Homo sapiens: one gene and its partners. The protein of the gene in region 1 purifies or fractionates together with the protein of each later gene. This does not show direct contact. Each region holds a gene or a part of one and is shown on either strand. Other genes may lie near its edges.

Region 1 (3,500 bases):
GCCTCCTGAGTAGCTGGGATTACAGGCATCTGCCACCATGCCCCGGCTAGTTTTTTTGGTATTTTTAGTAGAGATGGGGTTTCACCACGCTGGCCAGGCTGGTCTCGAACTCCTGACCTCAGATGATCTGCTCGCTTTGGCCTCCCAAAGTGCTGGGATGAGCCACAGTGTGAGCCCCTTCAGGTGTGAGCCACCACGCCAGGCCCCTTCATTAATTTTGAAGCACCTGACTCTACCATTTCTTTGGCCCTCATTCATTCATTCCAGTTAGCTCAGTTGCTCCTAGATGAGAGGCTCTCTTGCTCTAAATCTCCACTGCTCTCCCCCAGAGGACAAATAGGTACTGAGTACCTACAGTACTCATACTTCTATGGAGTCATACTTCCATACTACACTCCACACTAGGCACTGGAGTTACAGTAAAGGAGGAGAAGACAAAATCTGTGTGCCTCACAGAACTTGTAGGGCAGTGCCAAGGGATGGATAACAATTAACTGAATAATTAAACTCAATAAATGTGACCTATCAACTGTGTTAACTGTTACAAAGGAAAGCATATCACAGGGAGAAAGGGACCTCATCAGGGAAGTCAAGGAAGGCTCAGAAGGAGGGACAAGTTCTTCCTTGGGTAACCGGCCTTCTGTCTCTATATGCCTGAGTTCCTGGAGGAACTTACTCACCCTCTTTGTGGTGTCAGCACTTGGCATAACAAGTGAAGCAGTCCTTAATTGATCTGCTACAGGGAGGGGAGAATTTGGAGCAGGAAAGCTCTCATCTAGGAACAACTGAGCCAGAGTCAGAACACCTTGCGAGACAGCTCTGGGTATGGATTTGAGCCCTGCCACTCATGAGCTCTGAGCATATTCCTTAACGTCTGTGCCTTGGGTTCCTCATCTATAAACTAGGACTAACCGTTCACCTCACAGAGTGGCTGTGAAGATTACAGGATAAAGTGTATATAAAAAGCCCTATAGGCTCAGAGCAATGGCTTGCACCTGTGATTCCAGCACTTTGGGAGGTCAAGGCAGGAGGATCACTGGAGCCCAGGAGTTTGAGACCAGCCTGGGCAACACTGCATGACCTTGTCTCTAAAAATAATTTAAAAATTAGCCAGGTATGGTGGCGCATGTCTGTAGTCTCAACTACTCGGGAGGCTGAAATGAGCCATGATCACACCACTGTACTGTAGCCCAGTCCACAAAGCAAGGTCCCACCCCACAAAAAAAAAAAAAAAAAAAAAAAAAGCCCTAAAGCCCTACACAGGCCTAGTACATGAAAGCACCCCCAAAATGGCAACCACTATCACCATTACCATTATTTTTATTATTATTATTAGAAGACTCAAAGGGGCCAAGCATGGTGGCTCACGCCTGTAATCCCAGCACTTTGGGAAGCTGAGGCAGGTGGATCACTTGAGGTTAGGAGTTCAAGACCAGCCTGGCCAACATGGCAAAACCTCGTCTCTACTAAAAATACAAAAATTAGCCAGGAATGATTGCAAGTGCCTATAATCCAGCTACTCAAGAGGCTGAGGCATGAGGACTGCTTGAACTCAGGAGGTGGTGGTTGCAGTGAGCCAAGATCGTGCCACTGCACTGCAGCCTAGTTGACACAGGGAGACTGTCTCAAAAAAAAAAGAAGAGTCAGAGGCAAGAAATGAGCTCTGAGAGTTGTGTATCAGTCCATCAAATTTGAGCCAACTCACTACTGACCCAGCCAAATGGACTCCTGAGATCTGAATCTTCTGTGATTTAGAAAGGAGATGAGCCCAGCTCATCTGGTTCCCCCAAAGCAACTGGGAAGGCTACCCCAAAGCAAGTGGGAATGCTCTTGCCAGTTGATGGAACTACCCAAAATTTGCTCTGCCTGAGGCCTGGCTTCCTATTCTGATTGACCCCAGGCTTTGCAGCCCCAGGAATCTGAGGCAAAAGAGAGGCTGCTAAGGTCCAAGGACATTAGGGCCACCTCCTGATTTACCTGGGCACTTCTCTATGAAAGGAAACACAAAGACAAGCCTCATCTTTCCAAGTCTGGCCTCCCTCCTCTTCTTTCTCCTGCCTCCATCTATGCACTTCTGGTTGGGGGCAAGAGGGTAGTGCAAGGTGTGGTAGGCAGAATAAAGGCTCCCAAAGATGTCCAAGTGTTAATCCTTAGAACCTGTGAATATGTCAAGTTGCATGGAAAAGGGGAATTAGGGCAGCAAATGGGACTAAGGTTGCTAATCAGCTGACTTTAAAGCAGGGAGATTATCCTGGGTTACCTGGGTGGGCCCGATGTGATCACAAAGGCCCTTTAAACACAGAAAAGGGAGGCAGGAGAGTCAGCATCAGAGTGATGTCATGTGAGAAAGACTCGACGAGCCACTGCTGGTTTTGAAGCTGCAGGAAGGGGCCACAAGCCAAGGAATGCAGGAGGCCTCCAGAAGCTAGAAAAGGCAAAGACCAAGTTCTCTCCTCAAGCCCCTAGAAAGGAATTCAGGCCTGCTGACAGCTTAATTTTAGCCCAGTGAGATCCATTTTGGACTCCTGACCTCCAGAACTATAAGATAATAAATTTGTGTTTTTTTAGGCCACTAAGTTTTTGGTAATTTGTTATAGAAACAATAGAAAACTAATATACAGGTCTTTCAAGTTGTTCTCCCGGGAGCCTTAGGGCTTTAGAGGCAATGCCTCATGTCAGAGGGAGGATTAGCCGTGCTACTATCTTTTACATATTGGGCTTTAATAAAAGAATGCTTATTGTTTTGTGTGAGTGTTTTTGGTTTTTGTCTGTTTGGTAGAGGCAGGATCTCATTTTATTGCTAAGGCTGGTCTCAAACTCCTGGCCTCAAGAGATCCTCCCATCTTGGCCTCCCAAAGTGTTGGGATTACCACCACTTAAAATAGTTTTTATAAACCACTGATGTAGGCCAGGTGCGGTGGCCCACGCCTGTAATCCCAGCACTTTGGGAGGCTGAAGTGGGCGGATCACCTGAGGTCATGGGTTTGAGACCAGCCTGGCCAACATGGTGAAACCCCATCTCTACTAAAAATAAAAAAGTAGCTGGGTGTGGTGGCACACGCCTATAGTCCCAGCTACTTGGGAGGCTGAGGCAGGAGAATCACTTGAACCTGGGAGGCAGAGGTTGCAATGAGCCGAGACTGTGCCACTGCACTCCAGCCTGGGTGACAGAGTGAGACTCCATCTCAAAAAAAAAAAAAAAAAGAAAACACCACTGGTGTAGTAGAGAGAGTTTAGGGTTGGGCAGAGTTTGACTCAGTCTGTGTTTACCAGCTATATGACCTCCCCATGCTTTACTCAACCTCCCTGAGGTTGGGGGCCTCATCTGTAAAAGGGGGATAACCACTTCACAGGGTTGATGTGAGAATTAAATGGGGCAAATGGGGTACGACAGATCCTGGCACAGGAGAAGCAGTCAGGAAATGTTAGCTGCCCTTCCAGCCTCCTTCCTTCCAGGCAGTCTTTTTTTACTTTATTTTATTTTTTTTTTTGAGGCAGAG
Region 2 (3,500 bases), on another chromosome or scaffold:
AAGTGGGGATCCTGACAACAGCATCTCTTTATCAGGTTAACAGTAGTTTGTTAAATTCGAAACAAATCTATTCTACAAGGATTTACAACTATAGACAACTGCTTGAAGTAAGGGTCTCTTCTCAGATATTAAAATTTTCAGAACAGATAAAAGCACAGAAGACCTAATGTGTTGAAATGAATGACTAAATTTTGCCCCCACCACATCCATACCAAAAGCTACTGAAACAATATACTATGCCGTAAGGCTAAATTTTACCTGCTACCAATGTCTTCAATAGAAGAGATTCCATGGAACTGACAGGAGAAAGCAGTGCTGATTCCAGCATGTTCAATGCTGTAGCACTGAAAGACTTCAGCAGCTCTGGGTTATCCTCAGTCACTGTCTGCAAACAATATGCTACGAGGCAAAAAATAAGTATTTAGAAACAAATGAATTCTGCTTTGGATAATTTACACCAGTATAACTCATCAATAAAACATTGTATCATTACCACTTCATTAGACACATGTAGGTTTTGCAAAATATATATGCTTTATCTCAGGGTGATATGCGCAAATGAGGCTTCCCAAACTATCAGTGCTGGAAAAGATCATGTTTCTTTTCTTTTTAAATTTCTAATCCTGTACAGATCTATACTTTTTTTTTTTTTTTTTGAGACAGTCTTGCTCTGTCACCCAGGCTGGAATGCAGTGGCGCATCTCAGCTCACTACAACCTCTGCCTCCCAGGTTCAAACGATTCCTGTGCCTCAGTCTCTCAGGTAACTGGAATTAAAGGTATGCGCCATGATGCCTGGCTAATTTCTATATTTTTAGTAGAGACAGGGTTTCACCATGAAAGCCAGGCTGGTCTGGAACTCCTGGTCTCAAGTGATCTGTCCGTTTCGGCCCTTCAAAGTGCTGGGATTACAGGCATGAGCCACCATGCCCAGCCAGATCTACACTTTTTACAAAATACAATTAAAAAGACTCTTTTATTTTTTTTTTGAGATGGAGTCTCGCTCTGTCGCCCAGGCTAGAGTGCAGTGGCACAATCTTGGCTCACTGCAAGCTCCGCCTCCTGGGTTCACACCATTCTCCTGCCTCAGGCTCCCGAGTAGCTGGGACTACAGGCACCCGCCACCATGCTTGGCTAATTTGTTGTATTTTTAGTAGAGATGGGGCTTCACCTTGTCAGCCAGGATGGTCTCGATCTCCTGACCTTGTGATCCGCCCGCCTCAGCCTCCCAAAGTGCTGGGATTACAGGTGTGAGCTACCACGCCCAGCCTAAAAAGACTCTTAAATGCGGCAATGTCGTTACTATAAATGTTTATAAAAGTTTATCCTCAGGCCGGGTGCGGTGGCTCATGCCCGTAATCCCAGCACTTTGGGAGGCTGAGGCAGGAGGATCACTTGAGGTCAGGAGTTGCAGACCAGCCTGGCCAGCATGGCAAAACCCCATCTCTACTGAAAACACAAAAATTAGCTAGGCATGGTGATGCACGCCTGTAATCCCAGCTACTTGGGAGGCTGAGGCAAGAGGATAGCTTGAACCCGGGAGGCGGAGGTTGTAGTAAGTCGAGATTGCGCCACTGCACTCCAGCCTGGGTGACAGAGCTGAGACTCCATCTCAAAAAAAAAAAAAAAATTTTACCCTCAATTTATGTACTTATCAAGGACCAGTAGCAAACAGCCTTAGGTTTTGGGACGTCTGGCTTCCTTTAAATTTATCATGACCTTCAAAGTTAGGGTTATTTCTGGCAGAGCAATAGCTCTTTAAGAAAAAAAGTAGTTTATATAAAAGTATGAGCAAATTAAGAGATGTGTAAAATATTAAATCATGCCCATCAAAATTACTCAAAATGCATGCTACTGCTGTGGTTGATGATACATTTATATGGAAATCCACATATATGCATTTCTGTACATATATCCAAATGTAATATCTTTGTCATTAAGAAACTAATTAAATTTACTTTAGCCAACAGCCATGACTGCTACCATACAGGTTCAAAAAAAGTTATATGAATACATGGGATGGAATCTTATAAGTTCATTTTACTATATGTAAGCATTGCTTGACTTTAGAAGCAAAAGTAATAATGTATTTTAAAAAATCATTAATCTAGCTACATGGAGAAGGAAAACACTATTATACAATGCAAAATGACTATTCTAATCCATTTCAAAAACGCTCATTAAGGGGAAGAAAAACTAAAAACAGAAATAAATCTATAAGACTAAAGGCACAAAAATAGAAGTGATTTTTCTTGTAAAAGATATGAACTAACTTTCCTGAAGTTCTCTTATTGTAACAAAAACTGTCCTCTGAGATTAAGTCACCTATCAATTTCCTAAAAATGGCTGAATCGTTTTTAAAATCCCCATTTACTCACAACTCTCCAGCCCCACCAAGATTCCATTTAGAGAAATGATTTTTAAAATTTTCTCAGTAGTATTTATTCTACTATTTTCCCTCAATTCTGTTCTCTTAAAAATATCCATTAGAGTCAAGAAAAACAGCAGTCAGGGGAATACACTTCTTCCTCCCCAGGAGAAATGCAGTTCCACAAAGGGACAGCTGGATGCCCGCAGTAATGATCGGTAGAAAAGAAATGCTCTCCCTCAATTGTTTCTCCACTCCCACCCAGAATTCTGCTGAGTTGCCTATGCTCTGACTTCTGCCTCCTGCCACTGAGCTGAGGGTCCCCAGTGGTTCCCCAGCCCAATAAAGAGAAGGCGAGGCAGCCAAAGCCACTGAAGTTGCTGGACTTTGCCTTCCCTGTCTCATGGAAGGCATGAAGGCCTAAGTGGAATTTCAATCATTTCTTTTCCTCTTTTTCTCTCAACAAAACTCAGGCCGTCAGTTTTCTGCTGGACGTATGAGATAGTAGCACAATACATTTAAATAAGTTTAGATTCCAATTAACTGGCTTAAAGGCCTGGTAGTTGTGCGTTACTGTTTCTTAGTAAATGGAGATGAAAACTTCAAGAATTAATAAAGGCTGCTAAGAATGGAAACAGGCTAGAAACCACATATCCTCACATAATTACCTTTCTCCCTTTCAGAGTCAAAAGCAGAAAAACTGAATGAGTAGGTAAAGAATTAATATTAATCACAGATTTAAGACCCAGAAAAAACAGGTGCTGAGCTACACATTCACATACAACGAAACAAAAAATCACTCCAGTGGAATAAACACGCCAAAGCTGCATAAAAATTTTTGAATAAGGCTACACATTCTTAATAAGTCATCACCTTTTCTTCACTTACCTACTGAAATAGCCAGGTCAACATTGGTAGGAAACCTACTTAAATACTTTAACACAATCTCCAAACACCCTTCTTTGTTGAATATAGACACTGCTCTACTACTGCATTCACTAAATTGAAGGGGGAAAAAAAAGTTTTACTATTCACATTTTAACAGTAGGAAATCAACCATAGCAATCCATAAAAAAACAAACGAGGCTTTATAAACCAAGGAGTTGGAATCAAACACCCACCATTTTTATCGA
Region 3 (4,131 bases), on another chromosome or scaffold:
ACTCTTAGAGAAAAACTAAGTTCAAAATTAACAACTTCCATTCACATTAAACAAAGGTTTTTTTTTTCTTCGGTTGGCATTGTTGGAAAAAAACTGAAGTTGTTAAGTAATTGCAACTTGAAACAGTAGTCTATACATAAGAATTATCGGCTAACAAAACCCAAATACCTTTTCACTCAGTATCAAAATCCAAAAATATCAGTAAGTTATTTCCGCACATTTTAAAAGACTACAAAGAAGTTCAACCTAGTAGGTGGGAAAGTATAAATATTTATTATGATTCTATTGATTTGCATAGAAATTCTATTTGTGTGTAATAGATAAATATTTGAAAACAAACTCTTACAAAGTATATTTTGATACTTAATGAATCAATATTTCAAAATAAAATGTTATATTAAGAGTTGTTTTATCACCTAAGCTTAAATAGATTTTTAAAGATAAATGATGACTTAGGACCTAAGGGTATATTAAATTACACAGATTTAAAAAAAACAACAAAAAAACACTAAAAGTTAATAATAGTCCAAATAATTGGGACAAGGCTATTTAATCCTAGGTTCTGTTCATTCTATTTCATTTTTTTCATAAAATCATTTTCATTGTTTTTCATAAAATAACTAAAATTTGGTAAGTTCAAAATGGCCTCTAGAATTTAATGGCCTTCAGAGAAACTTTTTTCAAGGAACTCAAATAATTACCCTACCACAATGATATAGAAATGATAGAACTTCTGTAACTGAGTAAAGTAAGAGTATCATATTTAAAAATTTAAATTGATAGAGCAAAGTATCACCTGAGTTCTAATAATACTGCCTGCTCAGCTATCTTAATGTACTTAACTTAAATAATTTTAATACATTATATACTTAAGATGGCCATGATATAGTACAAAAATGAATAATAATTTGCCTGTATCTTATAAAAATGTGAGCTACTAAAGTAACCATGTCAAATTCTAATGTTGACAAACAAGAGGTGTATGTATCATCGTTCACATTAATAGCCTAATACTCCATAGACTCCTTTACCAAAACACAGTAATGAGGGAAAAAAGTCGACCAATTACAAAAAAGAAGATGCAGACTATGTAAGTCATCTACCTCACAGTTTAAGCAGATCTCTCTTTAAGGAGAGCTCTATCATTATTTCCTTCTTATAATCCTGGCTACAGTCTCCTTTCAATAGTAGCATCTGAAGTTGTCATATCAAGTGCCAACCATTGATGAAAAGGCAGCTAATATGGTTATTTTTTAAAAAAGCATTTCTCAGTCGGGCGAGGTGGCTCACTCCTGTAATCCCAGCACTTTGGGAGGCCGAGGCGGGCGGATCGCGAGGTCAGGAGTTCAAGACCAGCCTAGTCAACATAGTGAAACCCCGTCTCTACTAAAAATACAAAAAATTAGCAGGGCGTGGTGGCGGGCGCCTATAATCCCAGCTACTCAGGAGGCTGAGGCAGGAGAATCGCTTGAACCCGGGAGGCGGAGGTTGCAGTAAGCGGAGATCGCGCCACTGCACTCCAGCCTGGACAACAGTGGAAGACTCCGTCTCAGAAAAACAAAACAAAACAAAAAAACAAAAAAACCATTTCTCAAACCAAAATTGCAGTTTTTTTGTAGCATAAATTTTGCTGTGATGCCTCCATGATATGCTACAAGGGGATCAAAGAGCTACTACTATATAGTTCTGCCTTGTCTTCTTTCTTACCAGTAGGACAGAGTACAAGAGCTCACAAATTATTTAATTTATGCTGAGAGCTAACAGCGTCCTGAATGCTAGAAGACAAAAAGCATGCAGGGCCTTTCCAACTCTGCACACAGGGACTTGGCATAGGTGAGGCACTATACTTCCAGAAAATGGGGCTCCTGCAATTTAAAAGGCCTCCTGCTGGGACCTTCCGGGTTAGGCCACTCCAAATACTAAATATGGAGGCCAATTATAGCATACAAGTTTTCCTTTCTACCATTCCCAAGACAGTTGTCAAGATTCCTTATGTTCTGCTTTCTTCACACTCTACAAAGAAATTCTAGAAGTGACCCTTCTGCGGATATGTACTCACTTCTAAGTCTAGAAAAAGGCAGAGGAGCGATACGGGAGTAGGGGATCGAGGGTCGGTTGTGGGGTGGGGGTGGGGGTGGGGGGAAGCGCAATTTACATATGCATCTGTTCCCCACCCTGCAGGGCACGTAGACTCTTAACGTGGGCGGCTCTTCTAGTCTCTCCATAAACGCCAGCGTGCACACACTCGAACACGAGGTCGGGTCGGGCGCGGAGACTCGCGGTGTTCGGCACCTACAGCCTAGCTCGATCAAAGGGGCCTCACCTGTCTCCAGCCCCAGCCCGGCAGGCCGGGCCCGACTCCTTTTCCTCCAGTTGTCCAGCAAAGGAGGGAGGAGGGAAGCTTGAAGGGTGGGGGGAGATGGTACCTGGAGATTTTACACTTTTTGAGGCCTCCGTCTTCCGCTACTGCTGCTGCCACCCCAGGGGATTTTCTCTTCTTCTTCACCGGCATCTTCCGCCCTCCCCGGCAGGGTGGGCAGGGGAGCCGGGGAAGGGGGTCCCTGTCCGCTGGAAGCCCCTCAGCGCTGGCACCCAGTTCCCAGAGACAGCAGCAAGCGGAGGAGCAGAGTCGCCAGCCCGCACCGGCGCGGCCCAGCCCGGCCGCCGCCCGCTCCCAGGTATCCTCGTCGTCTTTCTCTGACCGGGACAGGGCTGGCTCCTCGCCGGTGGACACTGCGGTTCGTTCTCACCGGGAGGAGATAACGCGGACAGCGCGGCAGCTCCACCAGTCACAGCAAGCAAGAGGCTCAGCCTAACCCGGAGGCGAATCGCTGAGGCCCGGAAGTGACGCAATCGCGGAGCCGGTCCCGGGAAGGGGCGTGGTTCCGGTTAGCCTCTGCCACTCGTAGGTAGGCCAGGCAGAGCGAAGCTGTCTGACCCGTCGACTGCGGCAGTCCGCGGAATTCTTGTATCCTGTCCAGGGTATCCTGACCTTTCTCATGAAGCTTCTACCGCGCTCTGATGCTGGCAGTCACCGCCAAAAAGTGAAACTACTAATACTTTGCAGTTGACGTTAAAAACAACCTGGTAAAGTAGACCAAGTTCCACTTCTGAGCTCTTCCACACGATAACCTCACCTGAAGTGTTCCCACCCCGTAAATGCATTGTCACCCTGTGTCTTGCGTGTTTTTTTTATGGGCCTGTGATCAGCCACCCACTCCCCCTTCTCCCTACCTTTGCATATCACTTTGTCCTGTATTGAAACTTAGCTCTGCCATTATTTCCACAGAGCTCACCTCTCCGATAAGAGACAGTAGGTGACTGCGACTCAGTAGAGAGAAATTTGGGGGACAGTTCTAAGGAACCTCCCCCTAGACCCAAAACACACTGTAATCTATTCATCTCCACTTAGGTGGAAATACTGTTTTTAAATAATGGTTATTGTATGTAAAGACATAGTAGAAAGTCGTTAGTAATTCTGTTGGTAAAATAATCTCTGCAAACCAACTGTGATGGGAGAAGACTAAAAGTCTTTGAGTAATAGTTGAAGTGGTTCCTGTGAAACTACCCTCACAATGGCACCCTAATCTGGTCAATCCGAATATCATATTTCCTTAGTGTTATTAATTGGTTCAGGATGGACACATACTCAGGCCAGGCCAATGAGTGCCAATGACACAAAATTGAACCACCAGAAAGCAATTTTATTTCCTATGGATTTGAACCAGAGAAGGTATGGAGAATGAAGCCAAAACTCAGAAGAGACTAGTATCAAGCAGAAAAATAGAAAAACCAGGATGTGATTATATGATATGAGCCCAAAATCCATGATATGCCCTGGAATTTTCACTTATGTGAAGCAACAAATTTCACTATTTTGCATATTTAGTTCAATTCTCTGTTACTTAAAACCAAAAGAATGTCAAAGTATATGATCCTTCAACCCATTTAAAAATGCCTGAGGCCAAAATCAAAACAGAATCAGATAAAGTCTCTAAATAGAACTACCATCTACAAAAAGTACAGGACAGAGGAACATGTTAAATACCCAATGCAATCAGCAATATCTAGACGTCAGAAAAGTCTACAGGACAATGACCCAAATTCTGCAACAAATTATTAGGACGAGAG
Region 4 (3,500 bases), about 45 Mb from region 1:
TCTCTGCCCCCTTCCATGAAATTTTAATATTGTAGATATCCTCTGCAACTGTTTTACATATAAAAGAGAAAGATTTTCTCAAAGCTTCCCACCCAAGAGCCAGTGTTTGCTCCCTTGGGGGAGAATCTCCCCTATGGAGAATGCATAGTCTAGAGGTCTTTATAAGAGAGGCCTTCCCTTACAGTAGCCATAAGGGTGAGCACAGGAATCCATACAGATACCATGGAAAGACATAAAGAGGCATTCTCTGCTTCACGTAAATATGGCATCAGCATAGAACATACACTAATGTTCCCATAGAGGCAAGATTAAACACATAAGTTTACTCAAGAGAGTCCAAAGAACTATTTAAACATTTAAAGATTTCCCACTGAAGTCTTCTGCAAGAGTGGGTGTGAGAGCCACCCAGAGGTAATAACTTTCTTTTAAAGAGCGGTTCCATTTATGCTGGAAACAGTCTTGTCGTGTAGGTCCATGAAGGTTTACATAACTCAAAACTTAATATTAAGAACATGCTGTAATTCTGATTAATATTTTTAGCTAATCAATTTATACTTACACACGAGTCTGATTGCAGTTAATCCCAGCATGTTCAGTTATTGACATAGGATCCTTTAATTCCAAAATGTCGGGACACATTTAATAAGATGAGTGGGTTGCTTTTTTGTTTTTATAGGTTTTACAGGAAAAGTATATTCAAACCCAGTATATTCAAAAGCCATACTGTGGATGGCTTTTTTGGCCCATGGCCTTGGGATCCACATGTCTGAAACTGAACTCATTTTTTCTCCCTTCTGTTTCCCTTTTCTGCTTTTTTTTTTTTTTTTTTTTTTTAGGTTAATTGTGTTCATCTGCAGATGAGTTTTGTAATCATTTTGTTTTGTTTTGTTTTGTTTTGTTTTGTTTTGTTTTGTGTTTTCTGTCCTTTCCTTCCCTGTCCCTTACCACTTCCCTTCTGCCCCCAAGAAATAAGAACCTTTGCTGGTTCTTCCTACTTTGTTTCTGGTGTCTAGCTTTTTGTCAGCCTTCCTGTGTCTCTGCTGTCTATTGAGCAATGTTAACTGTGTGCCTGGTCTTGTGCAGTAGCCCCTTGTTATTCTTCTGCTTCTGTTTTTCTCATCTTTCAATCCAACCCTCATATGCCAGCAGGTGCATAGTCTTAGAACAGCTCTTTCACCTTGCCACTGCAGGTTATCAGGAACCTAGATTCCCATTGTGGACAACATTTGTCTAGAATTAAAAGCTCATTACAATTTGGCCCAGCCTACCACTTTAGCCTCACTTCTGTTCTCTTATGGCATCACTTCCAGTTTAGTAAAAATGCTTTGTGCTTTGTTTTCCTACTTCTGAACACTTGTCATTTAAGCTGTACCCCATTTTTACCCTCTGTCTCCTCCATAATGCCTCTTTTTTTTTTTTTAACCTTTTAGCCCTTAAAACTCACTACCCTTATCTGGGCCATTCCTATAATACAGATCCCTTAATATGACAGTTTTCCTCTTCTTCCTGAATATGGGTGTTTTAAGAGGACTTGCCTGTCTTACATCTTTAGTATACCTCATAGCTTTAGCACCATGGCTTGTACTTTAAAAATATTGATTGATAATGATTCTAGTCTTTTCTGTGAATTTTTCACTGTTTTATTTCCATCTCTCACTGGTTTGACCAAGACGTTATTCCTCAGTTTGATTCAGCAAACTATGTAGTTCCTGCTGTGTCCAAAGTGCTAAGGAGTACAGAGATAAATACATCTTATCCTCTGCCTTCAAATGGCCCCCATTCAATGAGGGAGCCTGACTGAGGGAGCTGTCTCAGACCCAGTGCTGAGAAACAGCATCATGTAGCTCATCCCCGCTGGTTCAGAAATGCAAGGCAGGGAATATGTGGAGATGTTGTGGGAAGGGAAGGCAGAGAGCAGGTGATGGAAGGATTCATTTGCAAAGCTGAGAGTTTATGGTTCATTTTCTAGTGAAGAAGAGAGAGTGAAGAACTTTGAACAGATAAGACATGATCTCACCTGAGAGGCCTTAAACATTGGAAATAGCATAAGCTTTGAAATCAGAGCTGAGTTTGAATTCCATCTCTAAAACCTGTGACTTTGGGAAAGTCACCAAGGTTTCCTGAGCCTCACATTCCCTATTTATGAAATATCAGGTAGGCGAATCTCACCTTGCAGGGTGGTTGTGAGGGCTAGAGAGTTGTTGGGAGACAGTTTTCTATGGGTCTTTCACGTTTTTGCACACCTTGCTAGCAAAGGCACTGGCTGCCTTTGTTCTGGACTTTTTTTATACAGTAACTAGCTTTGGAAGGCAGAGATGATGTTACCCTCTGGAGCAAAGGACAAATTTGTGTATTCTTGAGTATAGTAAAGGTAGTGTCTCCTTTCAGGGCTGAAGTCAGACATGTCTTCTGCCCCTTGTAAGAGAATAGTGTTCCCTGAGCTTGGGGTTCCTCGGCTGTGATGCAACGCCTCTGCCTGCACAACATCCATGTGAGCCCCTCCATGTCATGGCTATGGGACTTGCGGGGCAAGAGAAACAAACACATGCTTTCTGCTCATAAGGTTCTTTGTTTCTGAGTCTTCTTCATGGGAGTGAAGATTTCACAGGAGTCCGTGTCTTCTGTCAGCACCTATGAACCTGTGGCCAACTAACTTTGTTAGCTTGTAAGTAGGGTAAAATCTCAGACCCTTCACGGTTCTTAACAAGCATTTAGGTCATATGAAATGCAGGGTAAATATTTGATAAATGTTATAATAATAACCATTATTCTTTATCAGTGATCATTTAGGCATTGTGGAAGATGATGAGTTAGACATACCAGTTAAGAGGCCATAGTCCAAGATGATGAAAACATAAAAACAGATATTGTCAGTGGGAACCGAATAGAGAGAAGAGAGAACTGAGAGAAACTAATGAGACATTGACAATATTGGGGGATTAACTGGATAGGAAGAAAGAGAATCAAGGATGACTTCAAGATTTATGGTTTTGGAAAGAAACAGTAGCCATCAGTGAAGACACGATACATGAAGAGGGGAAGATGAAGTTTGTAAGAGAGGGTGACAAGCTTGGGGGAGAGGGGCAGCCAGGTGGTAAAGTGAGTAGGCAAGGAGTCTAGAGCTTAGGGGACGCTATTGATGGAGAGAGAGGTTTGGGAGTTAAGAAAATCTAGATGATCATTAAATCATAGGAATGGATGAGTCTGCACTGGGGTTTTCACCGTGCTCAAAGGGTTCTGAAAATGTTCTGTTTGAATTGCTAATAGAGCTGGTTTCTATCCCCAGCTCCACCATCACCCCGTCCATTAACCAGAACAAAGACATCAGGCCTCCAGCATAGCTGCTTGGATTAGAGCCAAGTGTGAGGATAGATCCCCTCCCACTGGGCCTTAACCCTGCTTCCAGGTGCTGAGTTTGACAAGGTTTACTTTGAGAAGACAGTTCCTTTGCTGAAAGCAGGACTGAGGAGAGACTGAGGAGTGGAAAGAGAAAGGGGCTA
Region 5 (3,500 bases), on another chromosome or scaffold:
GGTGTTTGGTACAGGGTGTAGGGGTAAAGGCAGGTGGGAACACTACAGAGCAGGGATGATGGGCCATACTGCCATTTTTGGCACCTAAGTCAGGGCTGCAAATCCTTAATAGAGTTGGAATGTGCAGCCATTGACCTCATCAAGGGCTTTGGTTTATTCTGGCTCCTTGGCTCAGGAAAATTCTCCCCCCATTGCTGTGGTTCTTTGCTCTCCTTCCAGGATCCTGGAGGTGATGGGATAGACTGGGGAGACGATGCTGTTGCTTTGCAGATCACAGTGCTGGAAGCAGGAACCCAGGGTAAGTGCACCATCCCCTGCAGCCCTGGCAAAAGTGGGGTGCTCAAGGGCCCCCACGTGTCTAGAAACAAAAAATGCAGCGCTAAGATGAGGCTTCTTGCACATTTAACTGTTTCTCAAAACCTTGATGAGGATGTGAGCTGAGGGGGACCAAGAGAGGTTTTTTTTTTTTTTTTGGAGACGGAGTTTCGCTCTTGTTGCCCAGGCTGGAGTGCAATGGCATGATCTCAGCTCGCTGCAACCTCCACCTCCTGGGTTCAAGCTATTCTCCTGCCTCAGCCTCCCGAGTAGCTGGGATTACAGGCATGCACCACCACGCACAGCTAATTTTATATTTTTTTAGTAGAGTTGGGGTTTCTCCATGTTGGTCAGGCTGGTCTCGAACTCTTGACCTCAGGTGATCCACCTGCCTCGGCCTCCCAAATGCTGGGATTATAGGTGTGAGCCACCGTGCCTGGCCCAAGAGAGGTTCTTAAAAGTTGAGAGTTTAGAAACTCTCAACTTTTTAGAGACCACATGTGGGCCAGCTGTTATGGTAGGAGGGCTCTAGGGGGATCGGGGCCCTGGAGTGTGACATGACCCCCGCCCCAACAGCAGAGAAGACGTAGTGGTGTCTGAGCCACTAGAGGGCGGTGCAGGATGAAACTTTACCTCCTGCGGTCCACCAGAGCAGAGAGCCGGCCTTTCTACCCCTCTGAACCCAGCTCTGGTCCTCCTCTCAGTCTGGGAGTTGGAAAGTGGTACCTGATTAGAGCTGAGACACCTGGGACAAGGTAGCCTTCCCCCTTGGATTAGAACAAGAAGTGGCTTTAGCACAGTGAGTCTGTCCGTATTAATCCTCCAGGGCTTCTCACACTTGAGGGTCTTTTCCTTCTCCAGTCCTCTGATCCTTTATCACTTCTCTGTCTCTTCCTGGCAGCTCCAGAAGGTGTTGCCAGGGGCCCAGATGCCCTGACACTGCTTGAATACACTGAGACCCGGAATCAGTTCCTTGATGAGCTCATGGAGGTACTGTCATCTCTGGAAGATGCAGGGGGGAGGCATGGCACCAGCACAGGTGGCTTCACTCCAGATGCCTGACCTGACCCCTCCTGTTTGTGTGAAGGGTGTGAGTGCTATTTGTGTCCTACAGCAGGAGCCTCACGTATTAGATGCCTCCTATTCATCCAGTTACTTATCAGGTACCTCCTAGGCACCTGGCACTACCTTAGGCACCAGAACTTGGGTGGTGAATAAGACAGTCAAAGTCCTTGACCTCATGGAGCTTATATTCTAATGGGGAATGCAGACTGGAAAGAAGATAAATAAATAAAATATGCAGGATGCTAGATGGCACCAAATGCCACGGAGAAAGAGAAAGTAGGGGAGGATGACGAGGATGTTGGAAAGGGCTATGGTTTTGTATCTGGTGGTCAGGGAAGGCCTCATTGAGAAGGTGACCTGTAATCAAGACTGCAGGCGGTGCAGAGAGAACCATGCAGATGTCTGGCAGAAGGGCTTCCCAGGCAGAGAGAGCAAGTGCAGAGGTCCCGAGGTGGGAGCAGACCTTGCACAGTTGACCAGCAACATGGAGGCTGGTGTGGCTGAGGAGAGAGAGCTGGTGGGGAGTAGAAGAGCTCAGAGATGTAGCGTCTGAACCTTGGTTTGCCTCTGAGTGAACTGGGAAGCTGTTGGAGGTTTCGAGCAGGTTAGGAACATGATCTCATTTGTGTTTAAGGACGATCCCTGTGGCTAAGGTGTTGAGCAGCCCAGCGTAAGGAGCCAGCGTTCTTGGACCTTTGTTGTAAGGCTGGGAGGACGGGGTCCTGTCTTTGTTAATCTCTGTATCTGCTCCCTTCCCAGTAGCCTGCTGGTTCGGAGAGCCTCCTGAAAGTTCTGTCCTCACCCAGTTCTCTCCTCTTTCTGCCCAGAGGCTCCTCCCAGCCTCAAGGGGAGAGGACAAAAGATATCTGTGAAGTTTTAACGGCAGAATAGGATTGATAAGTTAATATGGCTGGCTCTTGTATTCTTTTCAGCCTTGCCTTAATCCAGTGCTTCTCAAACATGTATTTCTGTTCCCTGAATCTCATTCCTCCCATGGAGACAAAATAAATACCTTCCCTGGGCAGAGAGAACCCTTTGAGTCTCTGTATTCTCAGTTATCTGATCCCAGGCTGGGGAGAAAGGACAGAGGTCTGGGGTTAGGATGAGATAGGAGGTGGGGACTGAAGGGTGACAGTAGTCTCTCCTAGCGCTTACAGTGTTCAGAGGAAACTCCTTACCCAGAGTCTAGCCCTCATGTCTCATTTTTGCATTTCGAGTAGTCCGAGGGCTTAGATTCTGAGTTCTTCTCTCAGTTTGAACCAATTTATCTTCTTTTTTTCTTTCTTCCTTTTTTTTTAAAAAGAGTTTCTCTGTCGCCCAGTCTGGAGTGCAGTGCAGCAATCATAGCTCACTATAACCTCAAACTCCTGGGCTCAAGTGATCCTCCCGCCTCAGCCTCCTGAGTAGCTGGGACTACAGGCATACACCACCATGTTTGGCTAATTTTAAACATTTCTGTAGAGACAGGGTCTCATCGTTTCCCAGGCTGGTCTTGAACTCCTGGCCTCAAGCGATCCTCCTGCCTTGGCCTCCCACAGTGCTGGAATTGCAAGTGTGAGCCATCATGTACAGCCTGAACCAATCTTTCTTCTGTCCTCAGCTTGAGATCTTCTTAGCCCAGAGAGCAGTGGAGTTGAGTGAGGAGGCAGATGTCCTGTCTGTGAGCCAGTTCCAGCTGGCTCCAGCCATCCTGCAGGGCCAGACCAAAGAGAAGATGGTTACCATGGTGTCAGTGCTGGAGGATCTGATTGGCAAGCTTACCAGTCTTCAGCTGCAACACCTGTTTATGATCCTGGCCTCACCAAGGTCTGGCTTCCCCTTGATGCAAGGCTCTGCCATCTTGAGCAGCTCTGCCTCCTTGTATTCCTCCTCTTGTTCCATGACCCCTTAAACCCCATCCCTGCCTCCTGGCCATTGCCATCCACTGGGGATAGGGGTTCTCTTTGGGACAAGAGGGGGAGGTTTCACATATACAGGAAGAATCTGCTTGCTTCCTGAGTAGGACAGGGGAACTGGGAGTGGGTTTTCCTTAAAAGGAAAGGGTTTAAGGATGTGAGGGTAAGCGGCCAGTTGGGGGTTTGGTTTCCCGAGCCTCTCACCTCCCCAGCAGCTGAATGGGA
Region 6 (2,983 bases), on another chromosome or scaffold:
AGCTCCCCACAGCACGCAGCATGGCAGGCCGCAGACTTGGGCCTGACTCAGAGTCGGCTTCCCTTCAGCTTGCTGCCATCTGAGCTTCCTCTCCTCCCCTCAGCAATGACCCAGTCCCTTCTGGAAACAAGGATGAGAGGGAAGCAGAAAAGAGCAAATAATGCTTTTTTTTTTTTTTGAGTGGTGGGGGAGGGGGGTTTAGAGACTGAGTCTTGCTCTGTCACTTGGTCTAGAGCACAGTGATGCAATCACAGTTCATTGCTGCCCCAAACTCACGGCCTGGAGGGATCTTCCTGCCTCAGCCTCCGATGTAGCTGGGACTACAAGCATGGGGCCACACCTGGCTAATAATGCTTATCTTTAAATCTGACAGGGTTGACAAACCCTGGAAATGTGAAACCAACATAACTTTAAGCCATAACTGATACTAAGAAAATCCTGGAAATCTTCAGGAATTGTGCGCTCTCAGGGTTAGTGGGGAGCCCTGTTCAGGCCTCCTCACTTTATGAAGGATGAGAAGGCCCAGAATAGAATGGCCTGCAGTGCCTTGCAGTGGGGAAACCAGCTTTGCTTAGCCCTGCTCCCTCGGGAGGGGCTACTGAGTCAGACGGGCTAGACAGTGGGATTGAACCAAGTGTGGCTGCAGGTTGGGGTGTGAGGGCGGGGTGACTGATGCCCCTACGCCTGGTCCCTGGAGGGCCCTCCTAAACGCCAAAGATAGTCAATGACCATTGAATGTTGAAAACAGCCTGGCTCAGCAGGGGTCAGTGGCTCATGCCTGTAATTCCACTACTTTGGGAGGCCAAGGCGGGAGGATCCTTTGAGGCCAGAAGCTAGAGACCAGCTGGGACAACACAGTGAGACCTCCATCTCTACAAAAAATTAAAAAATTAGCCACGTGTGGTAGTGTGCACCTGTAGTCCCAGCTACTCAAGAGGAGGTGGGAGGATTGTCTGAGCCCACGAGGTTGAAGCTGCAGTGAGCTATGAGTGTGCCACTGCACTCCAGCCTGGGTGACAGAACAAGACTGTCTCAAAAATAAATAAATAAATAAAAAGTAAAAGAAAATGCAGAATTAGCTCAAATACTTTAATCTAAAATATCCAACGTATTATTTCAATACGTAATCAGTACATAAGTTATTCATAAGATGTTGCATTCACCTCTGTTCTTTTTCTTGTTTCTTTGTAGAAATGGGTGGGGTCTTGCTATTTTGCCCAGGCTGGTCTCAAACTCCGAGCTTCAAGTGATGATCCTGCCTCAGCCTCCCAAAGTGCTGGGATTACAGGTGTGAACCAATGCCCAGCCTCATTCACTTTGGGGTTTTTTGTTTATTTTTGAGACAGGGTCTCACTCTCTCACCCAGGCTGGAGTGCAGTGGTGCAGTCACAGCTCACTGCAACCTCAACCTCCCAGGCTCAAGCAATCCTCCAACCTCAGCCTCCCAAGTAGCTGGAACTACAGATGTGTGCCACCATGCCCTGCTAATTTTTGTGTTTTGTAGAGATTGGGTCTCCCTGTGTTGCCCTGGCTAGTCCTGAACTGCTGAGCTCAAGAGATCCAGTAGCTGTGGACTCCCAAGGTGTGGTGGGTTTTTTGCATTCCCTTTTGTACCGGTCATTTGGCATCTGCTGTGCATACCACACGCAGTGCAATGACCATGCCAGCCATGTGTGGCTCAAGGTTCCTGTATCAGGCAGCACAGCTCAGGTGAGATGGCTTCCACACTCCAAACGTCATCTTACATGCATGCTCTGGACAACTTTTAAAACGTATAGTTTCTCTAAACTTAAATAGAACGCTTGACTGAATTTATTTTTCCCTCAATGACTCCAGACTCTCACCAAGACAAGCATTGCCCCTCTGTGCTTCTGGGGTTTTCTATTTCCCCTTCCCTGTGGGTATGAGTGAATCTGGTGGTGGTTGTCCCCACAGGCTGTCTGGATGGCTGGGGGACAGGCATCCAGAGGACCCAGGGTGCCTGCTGCAGCTCAGAGGCAAGCTTGAGAGGGCCTGGCCCACAGCCTGGAGAACTCCACACCCGAGTCCTGTGGGAAACCTATGGCCTCCATGCCCCCCAGCCGGATCACTCCAACAACCCCCCTTATGTCCTCCACCCCAGATTCTGCCATTACCAGGGCAGCCGGAGCTCTGTGTGGTCAGATGCTGTAACATGTGGGCCTCAGAGAGCTCTCAGCATTCCATCTGTGGCCTCTGCTTCTCACTCAGCAGCACACTCCTGGTGTGGCCCCACATCTGCCCCATTCCCCTCCACCTCCTCCTCAGGTTCCACTCTATCTCCACAGGGCCTCGGTGCCCTCATGTCCTGGCTTTCTGCCACCCAGCCTACAGGACCTGGGCTATGCTTCCAGGACAGAGCCCTCAAGGAACAAATGACCCTGAGGGTCCCAGCACTCCAGGCCACTCCTGTCCTTGGGTAAATTCTCTCGGAGCCCCCATTCGCTCACACAGCACCCCCTAATCCTCCTGGCCCCTCTATGCCTGCATTTCCAGTGCCACAACCCTCACATACATCTTGACCGTGCCCCCCCACCTGCCTCCTCCCGCCCCCGGCCTACCAGCACCTGGACAGCGCTCTGCCTCACCCACGCCCTCCCACTGCCCCAGCTCACACGTGTGGGGCTCTGCCGACCCCCCTCCTGCTGTAACCCTTGTTACCCCCCTGTGTAACCCTTGCTGCTCTCTGGGCTCTGAAGCCTCCTCCCATCTCCATTGCTAGCGGTTTTTCTTTTTTTTTTTTTTTTGAGACAGGGTCTTGCTCTGTTGCCCAGGCTGGAGTCCAGTCACAAGCTCTTGGCTCACGGCAACATCCCCCTCAGGCTCAGGCGATCCTCCCACCTCAGCCTCCCAAGTAGCTGGGACTACAGATGGGCGCCACCACCATGCCCACCTGGCTAGTTTTTTTTTTTTTTTGAGACGGAGTCTCGCTCTGTCCCCCAGGCTGGAGTGCAGTGGTGTGATC
Region 7 (3,500 bases), on another chromosome or scaffold:
CTTGACACAAACACGCTCACATCCCAGGCTGCATACGTGTTTTGCTTTAGAAATGACATGAAGCCTTTTGACTATTTTTAAGAGAAAGGCAATGGCTGTGATATTTCCCCTGCACCTCCCTCTCGGGGCCACTTGGTTAAATGTCAGGAAAGGGAGAGTATTTCCTGGTCAGGAACATTCAGAGCTTGCTGGGAGCTGAAGTTTTGTTTTCCATTAAGTAGGTATTCGGGGAGTCTATTTCCCTCTGCCTCCTCTGTTTCCCTGGAAGCTTGCGCTTGACAGTTGCAGGGAGGAGGGGTTTGAGAATGAGCAGCCGAGATGCCCACGTATCGCGTGCCCGCTCTAGGAGTGGCGGGGTGGCTATTTTTAGCCATCCCGATTCAGTAGAGGCATTTCAGCGTTTGTTCAATATTTAATTATCCATCTGAAATTGGCCCATGTGGCCTTCAGTTTGGAAGCAGCTCTCTGTGCTGTGATTTCCCAGTTGCATAAATAAGGAAGCAAGGGAATCTCAATAGCCCTCCAAATAATAATAACGAGAAAAAAAAGTAGACTCGATACTCAGCAAAGACAGGCTTGGTTCCTCGGTCTAGACAGACCACCTGTATGTTAGCAGAGAAGCACCACCGAGGACGCCCATCACGCCCTTGGAAATGCGGCGGTGCTCAGTCTCCGAATCTCAGATCCACAACTGCCTGGGTTTTATTGGGGATGGGTTTTCCTCCCTTCGCCAGGTTCCTGTGTTGACTTTGACAGCTGCTGGGTACCTGAGAGGTGGTTTGGGGATTTTGCTTTTGGAAGCCTTGTTAGCTTTTATTTCCCTCTTCTCTTCTCCCTGACAGACAGGAGAGTACTATCGGCATCTGGGCTGTGCTATTTCTTTTTCCTTGGCCTTTGGAGGCGATGTGCCGACATAGTTGTGAAATGAAAAAAGGCAGAGCACAGGGAGGGAGATGTTGGGGCCATGAGGCTCTGCCTTCCTTCCCCAAGCCCCTGGCTGATGAGGGAGAGAGGGGAGAAGAGGAGAGAGTGGGGCCCAAGGGTGCTGGGCAGTCGGAGATGACTCCTTCCTACTGTCCTGCTTGGCATGGAGATTTGTGGACTTTGGGTTCGGAGACTGGAAACCAATAAATTGGTAATCTGGAATAAGCTTGGTTTTTCTATCCATTTACACCTCTATTCTGGGGACACAGAGTTTGGCCTAGGAGCGTGTACAGAGTCCTGACTAGGTCATAAATGCTGTGTGACTGCAGACAAGTCACTGAACATCTCTGGGCTCAGAAGCACATGTAACAGATAGATATGATGCAGCATAGGGTGTCATTATAGGCCAGGAGAATTGTCATTATTAGCTGTTCACCCAAAGTCTGAGGGGTTGCTTGCAAATCAGTTAGGGCTGATCTAGAAAGAAAACGTTTGGGAGGCCGAGGTGGGCGGATCACGAGGTCAGGAGATCGAGACCATCCTGGCTAACACGGTGAAACCCCGTCTCTACTAAAAATACAAAAAAATTAGCCGGGCGTGGTGGCAGGCTCCTGTAGTCCCAGCTACTTGGGAGGCTGAGGCAGGAGAATGGCATGAACCCGGGAGGCTGAGCTTGCAGTGAGCCGAGATCGCGCCACTGCACTCCAGCCTGGGTGACAGAGCGAGATTCCGTCTCAAAAAAAGAAAAAAGAAAAGAAAAAGAAAGAAAACGTGATGCCAGTGGGGACTGGACCCACCTAGGTGGTTTCTCGGCATCCCTACCCTGAGAGGCTGCCACAGGTCTCACTGGTACTTGTTCAGAGCAGCAGAGCTTTAGCGAGCCACCTAGTATGTGTGACCTGGGTGCCAGGGGCTGCCACAGCAGATATAGCCAGCCCCCGCCCTCGGGAGCTCAGAGGCCAAGGGGAAGAGTCTTGGCATAAGGTTAGCAGATGGTGTGACTGGAAAGGTAGGCAGGGCCTTGAGTGGTGAGCAAAGAGGGGAGAACAGCCCCTGGCAGACCACTGGGAATCAAAGGAAGGATTTTGAAAATAACAGGAATGATAACAGTGATCTCCATGTCTTGAGCACTTACACAGCACCAGGGGTTCTTCTAAGTCCTTTACATGCATCCTGCCTTAAATCATCATTCTCCCAGGTGGTGTTATCAGCTCCACTTTCTAGATGAGAAAACTGAGGCTCAGACTGGTTAAGTGACTTGCTGAGCATCACCCAGCTACTGAGTGGCAGAGTCCAGGATGTTTAACCCTCACTATACTTACCAGAGCTGTGATTTAGGAAAAGAACTCTTAACAACCCTCAAGCTAGACTGGTATGGTGCAGGGAGAAGAAAGTGGGAAGAGGGAGCAGGGAGGCCAGTCCGCTTCCTGGGGAATTTTGAAGGAGGCCGGCAGGTGCAGGATGGGGGAAGGCAGAGGGCAGGTGGAGAGGAGCTGGGAAGTTTGGAAGGGCTGACACAGGAGAGAGGATGCCGCCATCTGAGGGCCAGTGCTGGGCTCCTGCCACGATCTCTCCCTGGCCTGCGGTGAAATGAGGACTGTAAGGGCATTGCAGCGAGTTTCCCATAACATCCATTTCACTTCAGTAACCCATTTTGATGCCTCTTTTTTATTCTGAGATGATGGTCTTTGGATTCTTTGGGGTTAGAACATTCCTTTTATGCAATACATAAATGTCTAGTATGCACCATACTAAATGGTGTTCTTTTTTTTAAACATCTATATTTGGCAAGAAAAGAAGTCAGTGGTTCTGTGTGGCCCACCCTCATATTATGCTACTTCATAGTTTTCATTTATAGACATTGAACTAGTTCCTGGAATTCTCACAGGATGGTAGGCTGACACCCACGAAGGAGAAGTCCAGGGGTCGTCCTTACAGCGAGAGGAGTGGGAGCTGGTGGTGGGATAAGGTGGTGGGATAAGGCCCTTGGAAAGGCGTGAAGAAGCGGGAGGATGAGGGTCATTGAGGGCTGGGGTGGGGGATGCCCGGCAGGCTGTGGACATGGCTGATGGGCCTGCCTTGGATGCTGATGCTGCAGGGGTTTTGGCACAAGACTGGGCAAGGGGCTTTTCAGGGAGCAGCTTCAGGAGAAGGCGAGAAAGGTGCTGGAGCCTGCAGGGGATCGATTATTTGGGGGAGAGGAGGTGTGGGGTGCAGAATAGGACAGGATTGGAGAAGTTTGGTGAAAATGGGGGTGCAAGAGAAGCTTGGATTTCCCATTAACTGTCAATACAGTCATGGTTCCACCTGGTATCTAGAAACCTGTTCACAATTGTAGGTTTAGCAGCACACAGGGTGGGGTAAGTGTCTCTCCCCATCAGGAGCAGCCTCTGAACTCTCCTGGGACCCTGAGCTTCAGGGAACCCAGGCTGTGGCCCCCCTCCCCCACTTTGGCAATGCTGTCTGCAGAGGGAAGGGCCGGTTTTACTAGCACAGGGAGTGCTCCGGCTCCTGTGTGTCGGGGAAATTCTGGAAGAGGCTCTCTTCCAGAAGTTATGGAAGGTCCCCGGGAGACA

What was found.
Region 2: the proteins of PACC1 (region 1) and HEATR3 purify together in Homo sapiens (co-immunoprecipitation; 3 studies listed by BioGRID and IntAct, with this or other methods). This does not show direct contact.
Region 3: the proteins of PACC1 (region 1) and DCUN1D5 purify together in Homo sapiens (affinity purification with mass spectrometry; 2 studies listed by BioGRID and IntAct, with this or other methods). This does not show direct contact.
Region 4: the proteins of PACC1 (region 1) and MPZL1 purify together in Homo sapiens (affinity purification with mass spectrometry; 2 studies listed by BioGRID and IntAct, with this or other methods). This does not show direct contact.
Region 5: the proteins of PACC1 (region 1) and CDK5RAP3 purify together in Homo sapiens (affinity purification with mass spectrometry; 2 studies listed by BioGRID and IntAct, with this or other methods). This does not show direct contact.
Region 6: the proteins of PACC1 (region 1) and MZT2B purify together in Homo sapiens (co-immunoprecipitation; 3 studies listed by BioGRID and IntAct, with this or other methods). This does not show direct contact.
Region 7: the proteins of PACC1 (region 1) and DAB2IP purify together in Homo sapiens (co-immunoprecipitation; 3 studies listed by BioGRID and IntAct, with this or other methods). This does not show direct contact.

What each region holds. Positions count from the first base shown.
Region 1 is NC_000001.11:212,404,887-212,408,386, forward strand, and holds part of PACC1 (proton-activated chloride channel), read right to left. Parts: intron 1-3,500. UniProt on the Homo sapiens protein: Chloride channel gated by pH that facilitates the entry of chloride ions into cells upon exposure to extracellular acidic pH. Involved in acidosis-induced cell death by mediating chloride influx and subsequent cell swelling.
Region 2 is NC_000016.10:50,072,470-50,075,969, reverse strand, and holds part of HEATR3 (HEAT repeat-containing protein 3), read right to left. Parts: intron 3,366-3,500; coding exon 3,256-3,365; intron 400-3,255; coding exon 259-399; intron 1-258. UniProt on the Homo sapiens protein: Plays a role in ribosome biogenesis and in nuclear import of the 60S ribosomal protein L5/large ribosomal subunit protein uL18 (RPL5). Required for proper erythrocyte maturation.
Region 3 is NC_000011.10:103,089,361-103,093,491, forward strand, and holds the start of DCUN1D5 (DCN1-like protein 5), read right to left. Parts: upstream 2,801-4,131; 5' UTR 2,513-2,800; coding exon 2,427-2,512; exon of another isoform or gene 2,324-2,426; intron 1-2,323. UniProt on the Homo sapiens protein: Contributes to the neddylation of all cullins by transferring NEDD8 from N-terminally acetylated NEDD8-conjugating E2s enzyme to different cullin C-terminal domain-RBX complexes which is necessary for the activation of cullin-RING E3 ubiquitin ligases (CRLs).
Region 4 is NC_000001.11:167,766,982-167,770,481, forward strand, and holds part of MPZL1 (myelin protein zero-like protein 1 isoform a precursor), read left to right. Parts: intron 1-3,500. UniProt on the Homo sapiens protein: Cell surface receptor, which is involved in signal transduction processes. Recruits PTPN11/SHP-2 to the cell membrane and is a putative substrate of PTPN11/SHP-2.
Region 5 is NC_000017.11:47,977,613-47,981,112, forward strand, and holds part of CDK5RAP3 (CDK5 regulatory subunit-associated protein 3), read left to right. Parts: intron 1-219; coding exon 220-298; intron 299-1,216; coding exon 1,217-1,305; intron 1,306-2,980; coding exon 2,981-3,186; intron 3,187-3,500. UniProt on the Homo sapiens protein: Substrate adapter of E3 ligase complexes mediating ufmylation, the covalent attachment of the ubiquitin-like modifier UFM1 to substrate proteins, and which is involved in various processes, such as ribosome recycling and reticulophagy (also called ER-phagy).
Region 6 is NC_000002.12:130,185,262-130,188,244, reverse strand, and holds part of MZT2B (mitotic-spindle organizing protein 2B), read right to left. Parts: intron 1-2,983. UniProt on the Homo sapiens protein: Required for the recruitment and the assembly of the gamma-tubulin ring complex (gTuRC) at the centrosome.
Region 7 is NC_000009.12:121,658,134-121,661,633, forward strand, and holds part of DAB2IP (disabled homolog 2-interacting protein), read left to right. Parts: intron 1-3,500. UniProt on the Homo sapiens protein: Functions as a scaffold protein implicated in the regulation of a large spectrum of both general and specialized signaling pathways.